Homo sapiens: one gene and its partners. The protein of the gene in region 6 interacts with the protein of the main gene of each other region in a biochemical or structural test. Each region holds a gene or a part of one and is shown on either strand. Other genes may lie near its edges. The genes, in order: ITGA6, LHCGR, SLC15A5, LPAR1, DGKZ, GIPC1 and DGKK.

Evidence for each region.
Region 1: the proteins of GIPC1 (region 6) and ITGA6 form a complex in vitro, tested with the Homo sapiens proteins (one study listed by BioGRID).
Region 2: the proteins of GIPC1 (region 6) and LHCGR form a complex in vitro, tested with the Homo sapiens proteins (one study listed by BioGRID).
Region 3: the proteins of GIPC1 (region 6) and SLC15A5 interact in a test that uses a peptide from one of them, tested with the Homo sapiens proteins (one large-scale study listed by IntAct).
Region 4: the proteins of GIPC1 (region 6) and LPAR1 form a complex in vitro, tested with the Homo sapiens proteins (one study listed by BioGRID).
Region 5: the proteins of GIPC1 (region 6) and DGKZ interact in a test that uses a peptide from one of them, tested with the Homo sapiens proteins (one large-scale study listed by IntAct).
Region 7: the proteins of GIPC1 (region 6) and DGKK interact in a test that uses a peptide from one of them, tested with the Homo sapiens proteins (one large-scale study listed by IntAct).

The regions. Positions count from the first base shown.
Region 1 is NC_000002.12:172,500,586-172,503,772, forward strand, and holds part of ITGA6 (integrin alpha-6 isoform b preproprotein), read left to right. Parts: intron 1-1,186; coding exon 1,187-1,294; 3' UTR 1,295-1,316; intron 1,317-2,722; exon of another isoform or gene 2,723-3,187. UniProt on the Homo sapiens protein: Integrin alpha-6/beta-1 (ITGA6:ITGB1) is a receptor for laminin on platelets. Integrin alpha-6/beta-1 (ITGA6:ITGB1) is present in oocytes and is involved in sperm-egg fusion.
Region 2 is NC_000002.12:48,752,925-48,756,871, forward strand, and holds the start of LHCGR (lutropin-choriogonadotropic hormone receptor precursor), read right to left. Parts: upstream 2,801-3,947; 5' UTR 2,748-2,800; coding exon 2,587-2,747; intron 1-2,586. UniProt on the Homo sapiens protein: Receptor for lutropin-choriogonadotropic hormone. The activity of this receptor is mediated by G proteins which activate adenylate cyclase.
Region 3 is NC_000012.12:16,187,985-16,190,685, reverse strand, and holds the end of SLC15A5 (solute carrier family 15 member 5), read left to right. Parts: intron 1-870; coding exon 871-1,018; 3' UTR 1,019-2,201; downstream 2,202-2,701. UniProt on the Homo sapiens protein: Proton oligopeptide cotransporter.
Region 4 is NC_000009.12:111,028,471-111,031,970, reverse strand, and holds part of LPAR1 (lysophosphatidic acid receptor 1), read left to right. Parts: intron 1-3,500.
Region 5 is NC_000011.10:46,364,463-46,367,962, reverse strand, and holds part of DGKZ (diacylglycerol kinase zeta), read right to left. Parts: intron 1,720-3,500; exon of another isoform or gene 1,707-1,719; coding exon of another isoform or gene 979-1,706; intron 673-978; coding exon 564-672; intron 312-563; coding exon 216-311; intron 1-215. UniProt on the Homo sapiens protein: Diacylglycerol kinase that converts diacylglycerol/DAG into phosphatidic acid/phosphatidate/PA and regulates the respective levels of these two bioactive lipids.
Region 6 is NC_000019.10:14,486,128-14,489,627, reverse strand, and holds part of GIPC1 (PDZ domain-containing protein GIPC1), read left to right. Parts: intron 1-3,500. UniProt on the Homo sapiens protein: May be involved in G protein-linked signaling.
Region 7 is NC_000023.11:50,367,368-50,369,825, reverse strand, and holds part of DGKK (diacylglycerol kinase kappa), read left to right. Parts: intron 1-806; coding exon 807-886; 3' UTR 887-2,458. UniProt on the Homo sapiens protein: Diacylglycerol kinase that converts diacylglycerol/DAG into phosphatidic acid/phosphatidate/PA and regulates the respective levels of these two bioactive lipids.

The DNA of each region.
Region 1 (3,187 bases), on a different chromosome or scaffold from region 6:
TGCCACTGCACTCCAGCCTGGGCAACAGAGTGAGACTCTGTCTCAAAAAAAGGAAAGAATGTTGCCAAGTTGGAGGCAGGACCAGGCCTCTTGGCTCCTGGTTTATTCTTCTTCCCACCCTATTTACTAGCACATATTATTGAAAGCTGCCCAACAAAACTCTATACTGATGGAAATGTTCTGGAGCTGCAGCATCCAGTATGGTAGCCATTAGTCATGTGTGGCGGTTAGGCACGTGGAATATGGCTGGTTCACTTGAGGCACAGAGTTTTAAATGTAATTTAAATTAATTTCAATCTGAATAGCCTCACGGAGCCAGCAGCTCCCATATATTGTACAAAGTGAATCTAGGCTTTTACCTTCATGAGTTGCTGGACTAGGAATCAGAGTTTTTCAGGAGATTTTATTTGACCAGGTTAAATTTTATAAAAGACAGTTCCATGGCCTTATGAACTAGATAAAAGTAAATAGGAAAAGTTCTCTATCACTGAACGAAGGAAATTATAGTAGAAAGTGGAATTATACTTTTATACTCATTTAGAGTGACCTAACCTGAGGAGCATTGGGTCCCTACCATTTAAGGGTTTTATGGTGCTCAGAGTTTGGGAAAATGACAGCAATCATTCTTTCATGATGGTGTATTCGAATTTGTATTGTGATTCACCCCACAGATCCAAAGGCCTCAAGTAAATGGCATTTGTTCCATAAAATTTACTGTAAAAGGCAGAAAAATACCCATAGTATATCTATATTTTATTTGGATTTGTGCTTTTATTTAGAGAATTTATTTTCTAACCTTTGTCTCAATAAACTGCCGAAGTCAATCTTTTGCCTCTTTTGGAGTTCATATTCTCCTGCAGGAAGAAACTACCCAAAGCTACAATCAGCAATGTATATACGTTTTCCCTATTAGAATGATTTTTGTCCACAAGATTTCTGTTACAAAGAGAAAAATCAATGAGCTGACTAGTGTCATCCATATAAATATTTGACCAGAGATGTATGGTGAAGGGTGTATTGAATATGACAATGAAACAATGCAGTGGCTGTTCATTGTTGGTTGACTGAAAGTGGTCTGTTTGTAAACAAGCCACTAGTAGAAGGCAGATTAAAATTTGAGATGTTCTGTTGTTTGGCTCTTATACACAAAACTGTAAAATTGACTAAATACCTTGCTTCCTTGTAGTGTGGTTTCTTCAAGAGAAATAAGAAAGATCATTATGATGCCACATATCACAAGGCTGAGATCCATGCTCAGCCATCTGATAAAGAGAGGCTTACTTCTGATGCATAGTATTGATCTACTTCTGTAATTGGTAATTGATCAATGTTTTTTAATTGCTAGCTGTGGGACCCGCTATGGTTGTGGTGGCTAACTTTAAGAACAACAGCTTGCTATGTGTGTCCCATTAACAGATGTTTCCAAATGTCCACACTGGCTTGCCTTGCTTGGATTTGTTTTATTTTATTTCACTTGAAAGCTCAGTTTTTGTTTTTTTTAATGCACAGTCTTTCGTTGCAGGTGAGTTATTTTATGTTCTTGTTAAATATCTACCACAGCAATGAAGAAAATTTGCAATATTTGTACACACAAAAAGAGACTTTTAGCCCTCCATAGTAGCCCAGTTTGCAATGTGTTATTAATTCGGTATGTAGCATTCCACTAGGGAATTCAAAGATGCATAAGAAATCATTCTAGATTTCTTGTCCATTTTGGAATTTTCCACAGATAGAAGCTGTGTCGACCGCCTAATTAACCTGTTGCATGTTGGAAATGTTGTGTTTCTCTTGGTGAGGCTTCCTCACTGTCATCTTTTTGTTCTCTTTGCTATAAAGTGATGGGGAAGGCTTGGAATGCTTTTTACTGTTGCTCAGGAATCGTTTTATGCTAGCTAAGCATGCAACTTCCATTTCCTGCATGTCTCCTACAGGTCAAAGACCATTACAACAAACTGATTATCAGCATGATGGGCTTTTATGGCCAACTTCAGAAGATGATCCCTTACCAAAGTTACCTTCCATCTACAAAATTCTAGTACAAAAAATACCCTGAACAGTTTTTATTGCAATATGTTGTGATGGAGTTTGACCATATTTCATGTATCCAGAGATTTTATCCAACCTTGGATCTCAGTTGATTTTAAATTCAAGTTTCTCTTATTTGGAAATACATGGAAATAGGAATTGCTAGTGATCCCTTTCACCATTTACGTGGGCATGAGAGGACAGAATTACTCCTGTAATCCTTTCCATGGCACTATCACAGTGAATCACAACATTGCCATTCAGCTTTACATATTACCCTTAATTTCCCTCTTTGTTTAAATGGGGTAGACAGCAGTCATATTTTGTAATAGATAGGTACTTTGGCTTTTTTTTCTTTTTTTTTGCACAGAATAATAAATGAATCCATGTAGAAATGACCTGGAACAAAACATCTTGGTCCATTTTGCCTATTGATTTAGTGATAACTATACATATAATTTTATCTTGCTCCATGGCATTTTTATAACATAACATCATTCAACATAAATGTCCTGTTACTATTGACGTCACACAATAAACACATTAACAGTTCTATCAATATCCTCATTCTTCTAAACTGCATTTTAAAGTTGAAAACACCTTTTTTTAAAAAAAGTAAATATATTTCATTTAAAAATTTAATCTCAATTCAAATTTTTTCAGATATATTCTCAGTAAAAATATACTTTGGATCAGATTGACTATTTAAATGAATTTTATATATATATATAAACACACACATTAACAGTTTAAAGGTAAATGTATTTTTGCAAAAGAAGAGAAATTAGGGAGTGCTCTGAAATTCAGTGTAGTGATGCACTTCTGAAGTCCTATGCAGCACATGATTTTTATTGCAGGAAACAGTTACTATGTGATTAATGAAATAGCTTAATTAGAAGCACAATAGCAAATCCAGGCAACATAAATGACCTCCTGGCTAATGAGAGAAGTGATATGTGTACTAGAGCCTCAGAGGAGAGAAAAAGATTATAAAGTTGACCTGTTGGAACACTGGCATATTCAAATAGTAATTTGTAAAATACTTGTGACATGATTTGCATTTTATTAGTGGGAAAGGGGCATGAAATAATCTTTGGTTTATGCCATTTAAAAATTATTCTTAATCTAATCTGATAATCAGATATTTTACATATCATATTGT
Region 2 (3,947 bases), on a different chromosome or scaffold from region 6:
TTAGGATTTTGATTTTATGCCTTTTTGCAATAAATAGGTGTTATGCCGGATTTTGGCGGGGGGGGGGGGGGGTGGGGAAGGGAAGTGTATGGCACAAGGACTTTTAAAATATACTTTTTCCTCTCTAAGATGATACCTCCCTGGAGAGCTGTGCCTTGGTTCTCAAACTTTAGTATGCATCAGAATCACCTGAGGAGCTTGTTAATCTGTAGCCTGCTGGACCCCACCCCTGGAGTTTCTGATTCAGTAGGTTGGGGCTGAGGCCTGAGAATATGCAGTCTAACATTTCCCAGGTGATGTTCATACTGCTGAGCTAAGACCATACTTTGAGAAATATTGCCTTGAAGTAACAACCCTCCCTTTGCTTAACATGCACCTCTCTTGTCATATGGATGTTGGTGTCACTATGTTGTGCCAAAAGTTACCCTGTTTTGGCCTGCATAGGCTCAACCTCCACAGAGTGACAAGGGCATCTCTTGAAAGATGAGGGCATCTCTCAACCATCTGGTGCTCAGGAAATGAAACCTTGTGAGGGTCACCACGCTTGGCTAAGGAGGCTAAATGACTGGCAGAGGATGTTCCTGGTGGTGGATGCTCAGGGTCTCTACCCCCAAACCTAGTCAGCCCTATCAGATATTTTTGAGGGGTTCTAGGATTCTTGAAACCCTGCTGAAAGGCAGCAGGAGAAAGTGGGATTTTTAAAAAAAATTTACTTCAGCCTTTTCCAGGGAAGGGGGTCCCCTCCTGAGAACAGCACGTGGCAGCAGGAGCCCTTGAGAGATCTTACTGAAAAGCTGAATTGAAAAGGAACTGGGACTTGGCCCACCCATTCATGCCCCCAGTGGGAGTTCTTTGCTCAGTACTAATTTTGGAGAAACTGAGTGTGTGTGTGTGTGTGTGTGTGTTTTATTAAGAAAGCAGTAGTTTTTCTTACAAAGATGAGCAAATTTAAAAAGATAATTAATAGATAAAATCCTGAATTGCTATTCAATAGCTGTGAGACCTTGAGCAAGTTATTCCTTCTCCTTGGATCTCAGTTTCTTCTAATCTGTATGATAAGTAGCAGGCAAGTGAGAAAGTCTGTTAGTAGTACAGTCATTCTTAAGAGCAACATGGCATGCTTGTCAGGGACGGACCAGGGCTGGAACTTGGAAGGCCTGTTGCATGGATTTGTGGATTGATTGAAACAAATTCTATCAGCATGGTCCATTCCTTCAGGGAATGGACCTGACAAGATAATTAATGGAAACTAATTAATATAAACCCCTCAACCCTTTAACTGTATCTCTCAACCACAATTATTCCCAGAAGGCCTTTAACTTTTCCACATGAAGAAGCCTGGCCTGGCAGGGAGGGTGAGTCTCCTCTATGAAACAGCCCGTGACAGACTGTTGGGGGCTCAAAGGAAATGGCAGAGGGGGTGGTCTCCTTCCTTCCCCAGCACAGAATTCCATCATCTCTAATTGTTAGGACATGATCAAGACCTCTACCAGCCTTTTAGATACTCTTGTCTTTTGTCTTTTTTTCCCTTTCTTTTCTTTCCTTTTCTCTTTTCACAGCTGTATTGAGATGTAAATCCTACACTATAGAATTTAAAGTGGACAATGCAATTGTTTTTAATATGTTCACACGCAACTGTCTCTACAATCTAATTTTACAAAAATTTCACCACCCCCCCGCCCCAAGCCCATACCCACTGATTAGTAGTCACCTACTGTCCCTCCCATCCGCTTCCCCAGCCCTGGTAACTACTAATCTACTTTCAGTTTATCTGGACATTTCATGTAAATAGTATTATAAAATATGTGGTACTTTTTTTTCTAAATAGGAGAAAGGAGACCTGATGACACCCTGATAGTCTAGTACTAAAGGCTCCCCTTCTCCTCTTTACCCCATTACTCCAGAAACAACGCCCTCCCCCAGGTTGCTGATGTATACAATCCCTCAATCAGGCCTGTGAGTGTGGAGGTGGTGCGCGGGTGCCAGCGGCAGGGCACAGGGCCTTTGGTCCATTAGACCATGAGACTGAAGTTCAAGCACATCTGGGCACGGTGGAGCAGCGGCTTGTGTGCTCACTAAGATGCCCGTGTGACTGCCAGCAGTCAGTTGACAGATTAGGTCACCCTTGGCCATAGGGCCTGAGCACTCCATTCCTAGAGGACCACAGGGTGCCAGAGCTCACATTCACCTTCCCTGACGTGGCTGGCCCAAGGCTCAAAGGCCTGTAAGACTTCTCTGGCAGAGACCCCTGCCAGAGGAGTTGAGGAGCGTCACACCCATATTCCCTTCAAGCAGCGGCAGAGAGCAGGCCTTCCCCTGAGGTTCCTGAATAGTTCTACTCCCCCGGCCACAGCCCCAACCAGGGGTAAAGAATGGGGCTGGGGCTCTCAGAGGCATGGGGTGGTAAAAACAACCACCAAGTTTTGGGTTCTCATCACCCTAAAACGTGGGGGAAATTTGATAGGGCAAAGCGTTTTTCTCCAAGCTTCCAGGGAAAGGGGGCCAAAGGAGTAGGGAGGGAAGGTGGCATAGAGCGATGGAGGGTCCTGCATCAAGGGCGCCGCGACGGGAGCGCTGTGTACTCACAGTCGAGTGAGACCGGCCGTGGGGCCGGGGCAGCGCAGGGCGCCGTCGGGCACGCAGTTGCAGGGCTCAGGGCAGAGCGCCTCGCGCAGCGCTCGTGGCAGCGGCGGCTGCAGCAGCAGCAGCAGCTTCAGCAGCTGCAGCGCCGAGAACCGCTGCTTCATGGCCGGCGAACTGGGCTTCTGCGGCTTGCCAGTGTCTTGGACGGCCTCTGAGTGCGGCCCGCACCCCTCTCCCCGCCCCTTGGCTGCCCTTCCACACACCCTTCCCTGCCGGCCCGCCCCTGCCCTCCCCCTCTTACCGCGCACCCCGCTGAGTCTGCTCTGCCTTGACCTGCGACAGTGCCCAGTGACCCAATAACCTCCTTCCTGCTACTTTCCCCTGTCTTGTCCCCTACCATCTGCAAATGGCCCTAGCTATAGGAGGTAAAGAGATTTAATGGCAAATGTTTTGGATTAGAGGTGGGGAGTTCTGAATTGAGTGAGTTGTGACGCTTCCCGGAACCCCTTTTATTTCATTTGTGAAAGGGTCCGATGGATACTCGCTATACCCACATCAGAAGGCGTAAGAGTGCCTGGCTCAGACATTTTTCCTCTCTTTTATCCTCAACCCCTAATCCTTTCCCCTTCTCTTTCACCAAATCCCTCCACTCTACAAGTAATCTTTGCCCATCCTCCCAACTACCCCAGTAATTTCTCTTGGTGGTAAATGCTTTCTTATTTATGGTATAGCTATTTGGCTTGGTCCTGTATCTCTTCTATAGATTGGGAGGTCCTTGAGAGCAAAATCCAATTCAGATTTATTTTTGTATTCCTTCTGGCTTCTACATGGTAAGTCCTCAGTAAAGATTTGTTGAATGAATGAATGAAACTGCCTAATACTGGTAGCAGCTGCCCCATAGAAGGCCCAGGATAGGCTAGACCTTGTAACAGGTGCTCTGCCTCACATCATGTTTAAGCTCCACATTGAACTAGCAGGGTGTTTGCGATGAGAAAAATGTCCCAAGAGGTATGTGGCTTCCCTGAAGTCACACGGTTTTAAAGTAGTGAAACCTGGAACTCATGTCTATCACCTACCACCTCTCACCAATGCAAAAAGCTGCTATGATCTACATACCAAAGAACTTAGGAGACAAAATTTTACGGTAATCATGGGGATCCATAATATCCCCTCTTTGATTTGATCATTTCTTCCTTCCAAGGATTCTGTTTGGATTCTGGAAATCCTAGCAGTTTTGCTGGAAGAGGTGGACTTTGAAAGCTGGGAAGGCATTTAAGGCTTTGAAGAGAGGAAATATAAGAATAGATTTCTTTCACTCTGAAGCCAGTTCTCAAGGATGGGCTCCTTCATTCACCATTCTACAG
Region 3 (2,701 bases), on a different chromosome or scaffold from region 6:
AAATCAAAAATAGATGACTGACCCCATCTATTTTTGAAACTTATGTGTATGTGATAAAATTAAACTTATAGCCGATATTCATTTGTTCATTTGACAAATATTTATTGAACATCTACTATGTATCAATCACTGGGAATAAAGCAGTGAATAAAGCAATTTGAAGTTCCTATTTTGCTGGAACTTACCCGAAAGTGTTTAAGAAAGTAATTTGTCTTTAGAGGCAGTATGCCATGGAGGAAAAGCGCCAGGATTCAGAATAATCAAGTTCTGGTTCCAAATCCAAACTCTGCCAACTACTATTTCTATGAACCTTAAGCAAGTTATTTAATCTCTTGGAAACTTCAGTTTCTTAATCTGTGAAATGGGATGATTCTATCCCACCCTTGCATGGGGCTGGTACTTAGAAGACACTGGAAAGGCAGGTTTTTCTGGAGGTTGGGGATGGAGAGTGCACATTCTAGAAATATATTCATAGACTCCTTCTTTGACAATGGTGCTTTCCACATAATCTCAGCACTGAATTTACAAATTCCCAGTAAACCTCTTATGCATCCTGACCGCCATGAAATCTGTCAAGTCAATAGGCTTTCAGCCTTCTCACCATCTCTCTGTCAGCACTGAAGACAGCGTAGCAGGTTGTTAAAAAGCGCCACCTAAAGGTCCTTATGAGACACTTTACTAAGTCACAAAAACTCCTTTTGTCCTTTTAAAAAGGCTGTTTTGGTGAGCAGTGCTCTTAAATAATCGTCACTGTTGTGCCAGTATCTATGAGCCCATCATAAAAGGTAGACAAGCGCAGGAGGGAAGCAAATGATTTATCAATTCATCTACATCTGGTCCTAAGAAAAGCTTTCTTTCTTTCTTTTTTAGATATTGTAATCTAAATCATTTTAATGCCCAGAACATCCGTGGAAGTAATCTTGAAGAAACACTTCTCCTCCACGAAAAATCTCTGAAATTTTATGGCAGTATACAGGAATTTTCTTCAAGTATTGATCTTTGGGAGACAGCCCTATGAAACTGTGTTTGAGTCTACCTGTCTTATGAGAACAGTATTCATTGTTTTCTTCTTCAGTTGAGCATTTTATGTGTTTTAGTGTAAAAGCCAATATATACAGAGGTGATTTTACAAATATCATCTGTATACTTTATTTACAAAGACTAATTATGAATTTTCTAGTAAACTGTCATGCTTTTGCATTAACATGTTATAGCATTAGAATTAATAAAATAATTTCAAAGTCTCAGTGATTACTCTATGACAAAAAAAATGACAGTTTTCTATACACCAATAATACCTTACAGCTTTCTACAATGGTTCAGCCATTGAAAGCGTATGACCTTTTTTTTGGAGTTTTAATGAGTCATTAGAAGCAAAATGACAGTATTTTAATATACTCTCTTTCAATACACTTAGTGATCCCTTATTACACGTGACCTTATTACATTGTGACCATATACTGTATATAACTGAGTAAATAATAAACATATACATGATTTTCTATATTTGCTGTTAATATTATGCTATCAAAATATGACTTCATTAAGGACATTTTCTCTGAATTTAAAAGCAGTATTACTAAAATAGATGTCCTTAACAAAGAGAATGTCCGCATACTAAAAAAGTTGAAAAATAAATGTAAGTTATGGAATTATTGGAATTAAAAGAAAGAAGGAAATTAGGGAAGATAAAATGAGGGGGCTGAGAGGAGGGTAAGTGACCAAACCAAATAGAGATGCTTAAAGGAATTATATGAATAACATCTTTCGGTCTCCACTGCCAATTCAGATGCATTCAGAAAATTATCTTCTAAGAGTTTCTTCTTTCATAAGCAAAAATATGTGGAAACTCATTTTTTAAAAAATCAAATAAAATTAAAGTCTGTTTCTCAGTAGCAGTATTTGTCAACATTTGGTTGAGGACAACTTGCTACAGGTGAATCTTTCTGGCCCCTATACAGACTGCCTTAACTCAAATCTTTTTTTGAGATTGGGGTCCAGCAATTGGTGGTTTTAATAAGCACACCCAAATCATTCTCATGTTCCCTAAGGTTTAAAAGCCATTGCTTTCCAGGACAATTCATGTTGGATAGGACAGGTGAGTTTATCAGCTGACTGCAAATTATTCTGCAATTATGCACCTCCCTTGTGTATACATAAAATATTTTAGGTCTGTAGAATAAAAGATTTACTCAACTTGATTAGGTATGCTACGCATTTTTAATTGCAAAAGAGGAGCTGTAAAGCACCAGGTGTTTCTGTTACTCAAACTATTTTTTGTTTGAGGACAAATGAAAAGACTTGCTGGTACAGGCATAAATTCGTTTCCTGCAACTTTTTCAAATCCTTTCTGTTTAGCAATTGTTTCCTGGCAAAACAGTGAGGCAGACCCCTAATATTCCTTAGAAGCTTTCCTTGCTGCAAAAGGTTAAATGCCAAGTTTGCAATTTGGGTTTAATGAACACTCACAAGAGCAAGAAATCTTTAAACACTTCACCTCAGTACAAGTGAGAAGCTCTAGTCCCTCTTACTGATAGAAAAGGAGCCTGCTTTATTTTGTTCTCCCCCTCCCCACAAATTTGCCTTCATCTCCTTAATTTCTACATCATAATAGAAAAAGGTGCTCATTGTGGTTTCACTTGTCCTTAGAGCTGAAAGATCTACAGAATTATAAAGTTGACCCAAAGCAAACACCAAAAGA
Region 4 (3,500 bases), on a different chromosome or scaffold from region 6:
AAGTTCTTTTAGAATGCCTTCAAACTCAGGCATATGTATCTTGTTATTCTTCCATTTTAGGAACATTTTCTCCAAGGTAGTCTCAATACTTTGAGGTGAGTTGGCCTTTCCCTTTTAAGGAAGGAGACCACAGAGCCCGGTAATCTCCTTTTCATTTTATATGCTTGAAATATTTTGCTAGGATTTATCTGTTTTAAAGTCTAGAGATAGACATAGCTGTGTTTTATCTGTAGCCCTGCCTTGCTTCCATCTCATTTTCCCTATTCTTACTTTTAACCCAACTTGTGTTTGAGATTCTTTGCTCAGTATATAGTTTGCTTTCTAGAATAATTCAAACCTAGTGCCTGTAGAAAGTCAGACTTATTTTTTATTTATTTGAGATAGGGTCTTGGAGTGCAGTGGCATAATCCTGGCTCACGGCAGCTTTGACCTCCTGGGCTCAAGCTATTCTCCCACTACAGCCTTCCAAGTAGCTGGGACCGCAGGTGTGTGCCGCTATGCCTGGCTATTTTTTTTCTTTTTCTTTCTTTCTTCTTCTTTCTTTTTCTTTTCTTTTTTTTTTTCTTTTTTTTTTTTTAAAGAAATGGGCTCTCACTACATTACCCAGGCTGTTCTCAAACTCCTGGGCTCAAGGGATCCTCTCACCTTGGCCTCCCAAAGTGTTGGGATGACAGCTGTGAGCCACCGCATCTGGCTAATACTTATTTTGAAGTCACCCTGTCATGGTGCTTTGCTTCACTAATGTATTTCACTTATGATCTTGAAGTCACTCAGGGATACAAACACAATAAAATGCATCCCAACCAGGAGAGGGTAGCTGCATTCATTTACAAAATTTTTTTTTGCAATGATTCAAACACTATAGATGTGTCTAAAGTAAATGTAAAAATCTCTCTCTGCCACTTTAACCTTACCCATCTGATATCAGTTTGTTCCATAGCCTTCCATAGTTGTCCTTTTACTTATACAAACCTACAAAAATTAATATTTATGTATATTTATGTGTGTGTGGGATAAGTGTGGATATGTTTATACATACTCATATGTATGTTTGTGTGTGTATCTGTCTGTGCCTGCCTCCATTTTCTTTTGCTTTAGAGAGGCTATACTTGAGGCTGCCATCAAGAGTGAGAAGTTTGAAGCTGGAAGAGCCTGCATGGGCCCTTCTTGAACTGGTGCAGCATGTGCAGCATGACATCACTCAAGAGTTCTTGTCAGAGTGATAATGAATGTCTGGCTATTGTAAACGGGAATAAGAAAACTATTTCCAGCTGTGTGACAACCAAGACGACAAAAAGCATTGCAGAGAATATTATTGCCACAAGGACCCTGCTTCATCTGGGTCTCAGACGACGGGAGGAGGGGCATTTTGGAGCACGTGTTTGGCATCTGTGAACCTTTTGTTAGGTAGAAAACAAGGCCTGAATGAAAGGCCTTTCAACCACTTCTGGAGCAGAGAAGATAGGTAGAGTTACTCATTATAGGCAGGTTTCATTGTAGGAGTATTCAGTGAGGACCCCCGCCTTGGAAGTCTGTAATCAGCAGATGATAAGGATGGTGTGTTCTTACTAAGAGAATAACACAACTGAAACAGAATTGCCTTTTGTTAAGGGGATGCTTTGCCTTCTTGGACTACGATTGTGGGGAGAAGGATTATTGTCAACTAAGTGAGGCATTCATTCTGTACCCACTATTTATTGTAGTTCCACAGAGAACTGCTTGCTTTACTTTCTGACTAGGCACAGAAAAGTAAAGGTTCAAAGGCTAGGGCAAGATGACTGACTTTTCCAGATTTAGCACAATCTGTTCTCTGGTCACTTTGAGACGCTGTCAGTTTAGTTTCATGCAGCTGATATCTTGGAGAACTTCTGTGTCCTTACGTTTGGCTGAGGACACTAAATTTTTTTTTTTTTTTTTTTTTTTTTGAGGCAGAGCCTCACTTTATTGCCCAGGCTGGAGTGCAATGGCACGATCTTGGCTCACTGCCTCCTGGGTTCAAGCAATTCTCTTGCCTCAGCCTTCCAAGTAGCTGGGACCACAGGCGTGCACCACCATGCCTGGCTAATTTTTTTTGTATTTTTTGGTAGAGATGGGGTTTCACTGTGTTGGCCAGGCTGGTCTTGAACTCCTGGCCTCAAGTGAACCACCCGCCTCGGCCTCTCAAAGTGCTGGGTTTACAGGCCCAAGCCACCGTGCCTGGCCTGAGGACACTAAAATTAAAAAAAAATTAAGAAAGTACGGTCCCCGCTCTTGAGTAGCTCATGAACATGGAGCGATATGGACTCAAATGATTAAGATCAGGTAGGTAGTGATGAATACGGTAAACCAAGTTTCAAACAAAGAGCTGTCTGCATATCTGAGGATGGAGAGGGTAAGTCAGCCTTAGAGGAGGGAAATGACTTGCAGCAGGATGCCAGCCTCAATGGTCTGTGGAGCTCATTCCATGCAGAAGAGTAATGAGGAAGACCCAGTGAGTGACAGGCTTGGGGAGGAGTGCCTGAAATTGACGGTTTGTGGCAGGAAGTGGTGGGACCAATCTCGAAGCTTGTGGAGGTAGAAGGGTACTGGAGACTACTGTGGACAAAAAAGGGCATGTTGATGCCATTACCAGACAGGACACGAGAGCATGATGATTGTTGCAGTGAGGCTTGTTAGTTTTAGACATGTCTAAAACCATGCAGGCAGAGATTTTCAGCTGGTGGCTGGCAATTTGAGTTTGAAGTTTAGCTGAGAAGTCAGTTGGCAGTATTCAGGCATAATTGCTAAATGTAGAAGTAAATGCCAGTAAAATGTGTGTGATAAGCTGGAGAGCACTTTTAGAGTGAAAAGATTGATATATTTTAACAAGGACAAGGCTTATTTCAATTCTTTAGGTTATTTTTCTTTAGCAGATTAAAGTAGTTTTATCGGTTATCAAGCATTTGTTGAGCGTTTACTATGGCTTCTCTTGATAGGTGGTCCTGGGGAGATAGGAAGGAAATGGTGCAAATTTCAACAATACCCACTGGGGTGAACAAAAAATCCCTGAAACACCCCATTCCAGCTATTGTTATCTGGAAAAAAATCCTTACAATAATTAGATGGTGATTTGACGTCTGGGGGAAGTTGCAGATATAGTTTTAATTTACTGTAGGACTAGTGGCAGTGAGTCTCATATTGCTGTCATATAAAAGGTAAACCTTCCAGAAGAACTTTGGAAATTTCAGTAGCCTAAAGACCACGCTTTGAGAAACTCGTAAAGGTTTGTCATAGAGGTTTTAAAAGTCTGATCAAATAATTTTAAGCTTTAGTTGCCTACTAAAAAGTAGGATGCAGTACAAGTTTGTCCTTTACTTGGTAAAAAAAAAAAAAAGTCTTTTTCTAATTAAGAATTTATTTTCACCTTAGATAATTTTATTGGCATGCCTTTTTGCATGCAAGATAGAAAAAAGACAAGTTTATTCTTAGTTTTCTTTTTTCTAAGCCATTATGATTCTTTTAAATTATACTCATTTCAATTT
Region 5 (3,500 bases), on a different chromosome or scaffold from region 6:
AGTCTATCTCGGAGGCTGCCTGCCCCAGCACAGCTGCCCTTTGTGTGCACTGGGAAGCCCCAGTCCTGGCATCCGGACAAAGCCCCTGCACCCCTCACCATCCTGGGGCGGCCCACAGCAGGGGTGCCAGGGAGCGGGCTCAATCCCACGTTCCCGGAAGGGCTGCGGCTACTGGCTCCACCAGCAGGGGGCGGCGTGCCCCTACGAGCACTCACCAGCATCCTGGCTACACAGTACTGCTCCCCAACGTAGCAGAAGTCCCCGGACACGTTGGTCTCGAACCAGATGTGCTCCCCATATGTCGCTGACTCCTAGCCACGGGATGGGCTTGCTCAGCACACGCTGGCCGCCCAGCCCTCCCTCCCATCAGCCCCCGCCCACCCGCCCTCTCCCAAGACAAACCCACTCCAGCGCCCCGATCGACCCTGCTCTGTTCCGTCTGCCCCACTGTCCCAACCCTTCCAGGCTTGGCTCTCCCAGCTGCCTTTAGTGCCTCCACCCGCCAGCTGCGCCTTGGCCAAGAGCCCAGAGGGTCTGGGACCCAGGGGTGTTCAGGCACTCACGCTCCAGTCCACTGTACTCCGGATCTGCCGCTCTGACTCGCTGCACGGGGCCCCAGGGGTGGGCGGAGGGGGGGCCAGGTGCTGGAGGCCCGACTTGGTGATGGCTTTCCTAGAGAGGAGAAGACAGCTGAGGAGGGGGCTGAGCACTTGCTGACCCTACTTCCTCCCACCTCCTGGGGCCTCTGCCCTTTCCGTGACCTCGGCAACAGGGAGGGCGGAGGAGCCTCCCAGCAGCCCCAGACACTAAGAGGCTCCCTGCAAGAGACATGGCCTTTTGGGGTACGCTGGCTTCAGGGTACTGCCCAGAGTGTTCCCAAGTGGGGAACCCTCAGCCAGGCAGAGCTTCAAGGCCCATGCCCAGGCCAGACCCACAGGAGGTCACACCACTCGCCCTGCTGGCCACAGCTATACCTACGCGAGCAGGGCGCTCCAGGCCTGGGGTCCGGCCGCCTTGCGCCGTAGGGCTACCTGGCGCCTGCGGGACAGTGGGCGCACACGGGTGGGCAGCATGGTGCCGGCGGTGGTGCCTGAGGCTCTTCGGCCCCCAGGGCCAGGGTGCTGGCCTGAGGGCCGCCGCTGGCTGAGGCGCCGATAGTAGCCGTGCAGGCCCCAGAGAGCGTGGTCATATACGGCATCCGCGGGGAGCAGGTGGGAGGAGGCTCGGCGCAGGTAGCGGGGTAGGGGCAACAGCGGCTGGGCGCCCCGAGGTGGGGGTGGCCCTGGTGTCTTGGTGCCTGGCTGGATGGCGCTCGATGCCTCGGCTACCACATCCTCCTGGACACCCTCCTCCTCATTCATGCCCACAAGCCCGGTCAACAGCAGGGGTGCACCCAGAAGCTGGGCCCCCACGGTGGTAGGCTGTGGAGTGAGCACCTTATCCACGATGAAGCGGGGGTTGCAGGAAGGGGGCACAGTGCTGGAGCGCCGGCGGCTGGAACCCTGGGCCCTCACCCCGCAACTCAGGAGGCAGCCCTGGAGCTGGGCGCTGGAGCGGCGCCGCTGTGCCAGTGAGGAGGAGGCCTGCCCAGCGGGGGAGCGACGCCGGGCCTTGCCTGTGGGCAGCCCCACGCTGCTGGGCCGCTGCTGCCCCTCTCCAGGGCCTGGCACCTTCCCCCGGAAATGTCTCCTAAAGAAAGTCTCCATGGCAGGCGGTTGGCTGTTGGGCACAGAGACCGGGAGCATCAGGAGCTGGATCAGGCCACGGTCTGTCCTGTGTCCGGGAGCCCATTCACAGCCTCTGCCCCATGAGAAGGGAAGCAACCAGGAGCCCATTCACAGCCTCTGCCCCATGAGAAGGGAAGCAACCCCTGAGGGAGGGAGGGGTCACTGCAGCCTCTGACCTCCATGTGAGGATCCCAGGGGTGCTCAGGGGAGCCCACGTTTACAGCTGTTGGGGCACTGATGCTCTCCCCCATTGCACCCTAGGGAGCCCTGGAGTCCCAGGGAGGTGGGTGCTTCAGGCTACCCCTTCTTCCCCCATCCAGGCACCAGAATCTACAGAGCTCTGGGCCTAAAGGCCTCCACCTGCCCTGCCGGAAGCTGATGGAAAAGAAAACAAAAAGAAAATGGGGAGTCGGTCTGCCTGGATGGACGGTGGGGCCCAGGGCAGGGCTTCCCACTTGCTGGGCCTTTGTTTTGCCACCAACATGGTGGGGGCAGGTTAGGTGTCCCCTCATGGGACATGGAGCAAACCAAGCTATAACAAAATGAGGCTCTCTGCAAAGGAACTTAATCCTGACAGGACCCCCAGAGTCTCTCAGCCCATAGCCTTGGGGTCAGGCTGAAGGTGACTCCTGGAAATAGAGAGGGTCTAATGTGTAGCTCAGGGGAGACCAGGTCTCAGGGAACTGGAGAGTCACTGTCTGGCTCTCCTGGGAGAGAGGCTGCTCAGTCTCCCTTCACACCCAGGGGGCCGTGACAATAGGCTTGGGCCAAAAGCAAAGCCTTCTGGATTCTGGGTGTGTGCGTGCCTGTATGTCTGAAGTGCTGATGGTAAGAACTTTCTGGTGCTCGACTGCTCTGTCTCACCTTTCTGAAGGGACAAAGTACGGATACCCCAGGGTGAAGCTGGGTGATGCCGGGAAACCCTTCTGACTCTGCTCCTGATGGAGCCTGTGACTGCACATTCTTCTGCGGCCCTGATGCTGGAAGCCCCCATACTCACAATTCCAAACGCTGCACAGCCCAGAGCTCCCTCCTGCAGGCAGGCAGGAGCTGTGGGCATCATCCTAGCTCCCACCTGGACCTGGCCTCCATGGACCCATCCTGAACTCATGCTTTGCTCCCTCTGCCAGCTCACCTCAGCCCTGCCTACCCTTCTTCACAGCCAGCATCGAGCTCCTGTGCCCTACCTCTCCTAACAGTGGGGGAAGGGCAGCCTGCCTGGCATGGATCAGGCTGGCGATGCCTCCAGGTACCTGAGGCCACCTGTGCCCCACAGCAGGTGATCTCCTGGGCCCTGGTCCTGGGGAGAGACTGGTGGGGGATGCATCCTAACCGCTGGCAGCCACAGAGGTCAAGGTCACAGCCCTGGGACAGTGCTGCCTGGGGCTGACAGAAGAAGCCCTGTGGTCCCCTGAAGGCTGGCATTAATTAGGCATGGTGGGTGATGCCCTGGACGCATGTTGGGCAGGAGGAAGGATGAAGGCAAAGATGAAGGGCTGGAGGAGTCAGGCCCAGGCCGCACGTCTAGCACCTTCTCCTTCCATACACTGCACTGATTTGCTACTGCCCTGCAGGTCTTGAGCAGCTTCAGGCCAGGTACAGGGGTGTTGGGGGAGAGATGGACAGGGTGGAGGTGCCTAGGGAAGCAGAGTTCTGCACAGCTCAGCTCTTGGTCTCTGCCTATTGGAGTTTCCAGCTGCCTCAGATGACAGGGAGGTCAGGGCAGTGCTCTTATGACCCCAAATAGTGCCCCACTCAAAGCAGACCACCTGG
Region 6 (3,500 bases):
AGCCATTATTTATACTCATTCCAAGGCTTCTAACATGATGATACTATTTCCTCGTATTTCCACCATTCCAATATTTTTCTGTTGTCCACTAGTCGCCATCTCCACACATTCATCTATCACAAGGTTCATAAAGGGATCAAATCCCCGCAATATTCCTTGGACATGTCTGCCACCATTTAATTTCAATGAAAACTTCTTGTCCGTAAATTTTTTCAACTCAGGAGGGTGAGCTTTGCTCATGGTGTATACTCCATGGGCTCACAGATGCCTTGGAACAGAACGCACGGCTTCCCTCACGCTACCGCGGTAGGCCCAGCATCTTGTGCCTGGCGTCATCGACCTCGTTAGCCAATCGATTGTTCGAGCATGAGTTTCAATGGGGCAAACCTTATCCAAACCATAGCAGGCTGGGTGTGGTAGCTCATGCCTATAATCCCAGCACTTTGGAAGGCCAAGGCGGGAGGATTGCTTGAGCCCAGGAGTTCAGGACCAATCTGGGCAACGTAGTGAGACCCGTCTCTACAAAAAATAAAAATTAGCTGGGCATGGCTGTGAACACCTGTAGTCTCAGCTATTCAGGAGGTTGAGACAGGAGGATTGCTTGAGCCCAGGAATTTGAGGCTGTAGTGAGCTGTGATCACATCACTCCACTGCAGCCTGGACGACAGAGTGAGACCCCATTAAAAAAAAAAAATCAGGAAAACATAGCAACCTGTTACCTCCCTGCCCTCATGTTCTCACTATCCCCCCTTCACTCACTGTTCCAACCCCCCAGGCCTCCTCACTGTTCCTCAAACATGCCAATTGCATGCCCAGTTCAGGGCTTGGCTTTTCTTTCTTTTTTTTTTTTTTGTTTAGACCGAGTCTCGCTCTGTCGCCCAGGCTGGAGTGCAATGGCGTGATCTCAGCTCACTGCAACCTCAGCCTCAGGAGTAGCTGGGATTACAAGCATGCACCACTACGCCCAGCTAATTTTTGTGTTTTTAGTAGAGATGAGGTTTGCATGCACCACCATACCTGGCTAATTTTTGTATTTTTAGTAGAGACGGGGTTTCACCATGTTGGTCAGGCTGGCCTCAAACTCCTGACCTCATGATCCGCCTGCCTTGGCCTTCCAAAGTGCTGGGATTACAGGCATGAGCCACCGCGCCTGGCTAGGGCTTTTCTTTGTTTTTTTGAGATGGAGTCTCGGTTTGTCACCCAGGCTGGAGTGCAGTGGTGTGATCTCGGCTCACTGCAACCTCCGCCTCCTGCATTCAAGTGATTCTCCCACCTCAGCTTCCCGAGTAGCTGGGATCACAGGTGTGCACCACCACGCCCACCTGTGTATTGTATTTTTAGTAGAGATGGGGTTTTGCCATGTAGGCCAGGCTGGTCTCAAACTGCTGACCTCATGTGATCCGTCAACCTCAACCTCCCAAAGTGCTGGGATTACAGGCTTGAGCCACCATGCCCAGCCCCAGCTCAGGGCCTTTCTACTGGCTGTTCTCTCTACTTGGGACGTTCTTGCCCCAAATCATTGCATGAATGCTTCCTCCTGTGGTTCAGGTCTCAAGTTCAGCTTCACGTGCTCAGAGACGCCCTCACTGATCTTGTCTATAGAACTTGTCTTGCTTTGTCTCCATATCACTATTAAAAATTATATGAGGCTGGGCACAGTGGCTCATGCCTATAATCCCAGCTCGTTAGGAGTCCATGGCAGGAGGATTACTTGAGCCCAGGAGTTTGAGACCAGCCGGGACAACATAGCAAGACCCTGTCTCTAAAAAATAAAAATAAAAAAATTAGCAGGGCATGGTGGCAAGCACCTGTGGTCCCAGCTACTCAAGAGGCTGGGGCGGGAGGATCACTTGAGCCCAGGAGGGCAAGGGTGCAGTGAGCTCTGATTGCACCACTGCACCTCAGCCTTGGCAACACAGCAAGACTCTGTCAAAAAAAAAAAGGAAAATAAAGGAAAAAATTTATATTAGACATTTACACATTTCCCTGCTCCCTGTGCATTTCCTCTTCCGGACTGTCCACTTCTGGAGGTCATGTGCAGAGCCCCAGCTAGCCTATATAGCATCTGTGAGTGAATTAGAAAGACATCTCTTCGGCCGGGTGCAGTGACTCATGCCTGTAATCCCAGCACTTTGGGAGGCTGAGGCGAGCGAATCACGAGGTCAGGAGTTCGAGACCAGCCTGGCCAACGTAGTGAAACTCCGTCTCTACTAAAAACACAAAAAAAATTAGCCGGGCATGGTGGCGTGCACCTGTAGTCCCAGCTACCTGGGAGGCTGAGGCAGGAGAATTGCTGGAACCTGGGAGGCGGAGCTTGCAGTGAGCCAAGATTGCACCACTGCACTCCAGCCTGGGCAACACAGAACAGACTCTGTCTCAAAAAAAAAAAAAGAAAGAAAGAAAAAAAAGAAAAAAAGAAAGGCATCTCTTCCTCCTGGCAGACACCACACCAAGAAATATAGCTTGGCAGGCAGTGCACAGACCGAATTTCAGTCCTACTTGCCACCTTGGTCTAGTAATTTTGCACAGTACACAACTTGTGTAACTGAACATGGTGGCCCTAGTCAGGGATCTTGCTTTTTTTATTGAAGACAGTATCTAAAATGGTGCACAGAATACAGTAAGTACTAAAAAGAAAAAAAAAATTGTTTGAAGGGAGGGGAGAATGGAGAAAGAGAGAAATAAAGAAGCGGGCCGGGCGCGGTGGCTCATGCCTGTAATCCCAGCACTTCAAGAGGCTGAGGCGGGTGGATCACTTGAGGTCAGGAGTCTTCTGTAGTCACAGCTACTTGGGAGGTTGAGGCAGGTGAATCGCTTGAACCCAGGAGGCGGAGGTTGCAGTGAGCTGAGATCGCACCACTGCACTGCTGCTTGGGTGACAGAGCAAGACTCTGTCTCAAAAAAAAAAAAAAAAAGAAAGAAAGAAAGCAAGAAAGAAACAGAAAAAAAATGTATGTGGTGTAGAAAACAACCCCAAAAGTCTTAGTGGCTGAATTCAGCAAAGATTTGCTTTTTCTTCCTGCTACACTTCCATTGCGGCTCAGCAGGGGGCACCATTCACCGTAGTCATTCAGGGCCCGGCCTCATAGAGTCGCCACCATATCAAATGTGGCTCATCACCCTGCCTGGGAAAGATAGATCTCTGGAGGCTCCAGCACTTAAATGCCTCAGCCCAGAAATGTCATGTGCCACTTCCTCTCACAACCTATTTGCCAGAAATAATCATTTATCTGCCCAGTCACAAGGAGGCCAGGAAGTGCCATCCACCTGTTTGGTCCAAAGGGGGAGAGTCAGAAATTTTTTGCACACAGTGTTAGTGACTGTGGCTGAGAGGAAAATAGAAGCGTAGTCGCTTTCAGCCTCCATTTTCTCATCTGTTCAATGGGCATAATTGTAGCATAACGTGATCCCTGTGTTACAGTGTGGTGTGAGGGTTAAGGAAGGTCACAGGCCGGGCACGGTGGCCCATACCTGTCATGCCAGAGCTTTGGGAGGCCAAA
Region 7 (2,458 bases), on a different chromosome or scaffold from region 6:
TTGGAAGGCCGAGGCAGGCAGACTGTTTGAGCCCAGGAGTTCAAGACCAGCCTGGGCAACGTGGTGGGACCCTGCTGTCTCTACAAAAAATAAAAAATTAATAGGGCATGATGGTGTGCGTTTGTAGTCCTAGCTACTTGGGAGGCTGAGGTGGGAGGATTGCTTGAGCCTGGGAGGCTGAGGCTGCAGAGAGCTGTCATCATGCCACTGCTCTTCAGCTTGGGCAATAGAGTGAGACCTCATCTTGAAAGAAAGAGGAAGGAGGGAAGGAGGGAGGCAGGGAGGGGGAAGGAAGGAAGGAAGGAGGGAGAAAAAAAGAGGAAGAATAAAGAAAGGACGGAAGGAGAAAGAAAGGGAGCGAAATGAAAGAAAGAAGGAAAGAAAGAAAAAAAAGAAAAAAAGAAAGGGACAGAGGGTAGCAGTTTGTTTTCAAGGAACTAAGAGTTTGCACGAATGCCAAGAGAGAATCTCTTGGATCGAGCTGTATTTTCTCAGGTATGGTCGAACTGGTTTGATTCCTTAAGAGTCTGTCAATTGGGAGACAATAGTGTTTGCAAATATTTCTAAAGACTCTGACAGAGTCAATATCAGTTCCATAAATTATCAGGTTCTGAAAATTCATCCCATTTGTCTTTAGCTCACTTGGTTTCAGCTGGTTTTCCCTGATGATTCAGAGATGGTTAGTACAATAGGAACAAACCAGTCTATCTTCTAACAGACTTTTTGCTCTCTTTTGGGTCCACATACTTGGGCATCTGGCATTGTGCTAACCTCATTATTTCTATACCATTTTTTTTCCTCTGAAGGCAATTTATGGCACCGCAGACATCGTGAAGATGAAGCAGAGGGTGATGATCCTCTAACACCATCGAGATCTCAACTGTAGCCCTTGAAAGCTGGAAGAACTCACAACATTGAGAATTCTACTAAAAAAACTCTCAAAACCTCAATACAGGCTAGACTAAATCATTTCAGAACAAACATGAGCACCACCAAGAAAGACCCTCCAATTCTTTTCACTAATGCATTTTCCTGGACTTAATCTGGTCTCCTTAGAGGTTTACATTTCCTCATTGGCCAAAGGTTCTTGTTCCGAGTTGTCTTGTTCAGTTCTCCTTCTCTTTGTGCATCTTGAGCAACTACAGTATTTATTGGGATAAGCTCTTTATGAATGGCCTGGGATCTATAAAGGATTCAAGGGAGTTCACCTCTTCAGGGAGTTTTGGAATGGTTTTCTCTGACCAGCAGAGAAACTATCAATGCTAAGGAATGAATGAAAGACACACAGACTCCCAGGGAGATGAAGAGAAGGGGGCAGGCAGGACAGCCAGACTTGGTTGTGTGTCTCTCCGAATCCCTGCCAACTGCAACTTGCACCTTCAGGAGATCTCTTCTAGTTGGCTCATTAAAATGAGAACTAGATCCTGGGGGCTTGTCCACTTTCCTGTTAAGATGACCATGTGAAATCTCTTTTTGTAGATATGGTAACCTCTCTCTCTCTCTGCAAACCCTTTGCGTTTTTCTATGTGTGCTTGTATGTCTGCATATGTCCAGGTGGTGCTCTGGTGGGCTCATTGGTTGGAACTCACCCCTCATGGCAACCATACAGGCTCCCCTCCTGCTGCCTTGATCCTAGCCTGCATGCCTCCACGGAGTGTTTGCCTGCATTCTTGCTGGATTTTTTAACTAAATGTTTTGCCGCTGTGCTGCAGTATAGATTATGTATAGAGACATAAAGATGTATATATATATACATACGCATATATATTTTTAAGAGCTGAAAATACAACTCGACCTCTAAGTGACCCTATAATTTATTGTGCTAATCCAGGAATCCCTTCCCACTCCCCCTTACTCTACATAACAATAACACATACACCTCTACCAACTGCCCTATTTCTTGGTGGAGCTTCTAAATCTTTTGGTGCATTTTCAGCGTCTTAGAGGTGGCTGGGATCTATGGCCCAGCTGATTCTGACGCCCCCTTAAAATTCTGAGCCAGGCCATGGAAAGGGGAACAAAAACACCAATGCCCTAAAGAAGGGGTTTAAGCTGGCATGCTGCCTTTTTTTGCTCTATCTGTCCTAGACTCTTCATCAGCAACTGTGCCCTTCCCCAATAAAAAGACTATATGGAGCAACCAGGCCTTGAGCTCTGTGACTTAGATGCCTGAACTAGGGACTGCCTGACAATTAAGTCACAGCCTAGGCCCTTCCCCACAAGCTCCATCTTGGCCTGATCTTCTGGACAGGCTGTTGGGTCAGTCCTCAAGTCACCTTCAAATCTCCCATCTTGCCCTTTTCCCTTGAGTACAGAGGGGCATTGAAGTGATCAGAAAAAACATGGGCCTGGAGAAATGAAGGCTAGAAGCCTGTGCTTTCCTGTGGTTCTTCTTGCAAATTTCTCATGAAAACAAACTATTCCTAAATCGCTCCAAATACTAATTCACATTTTTCAA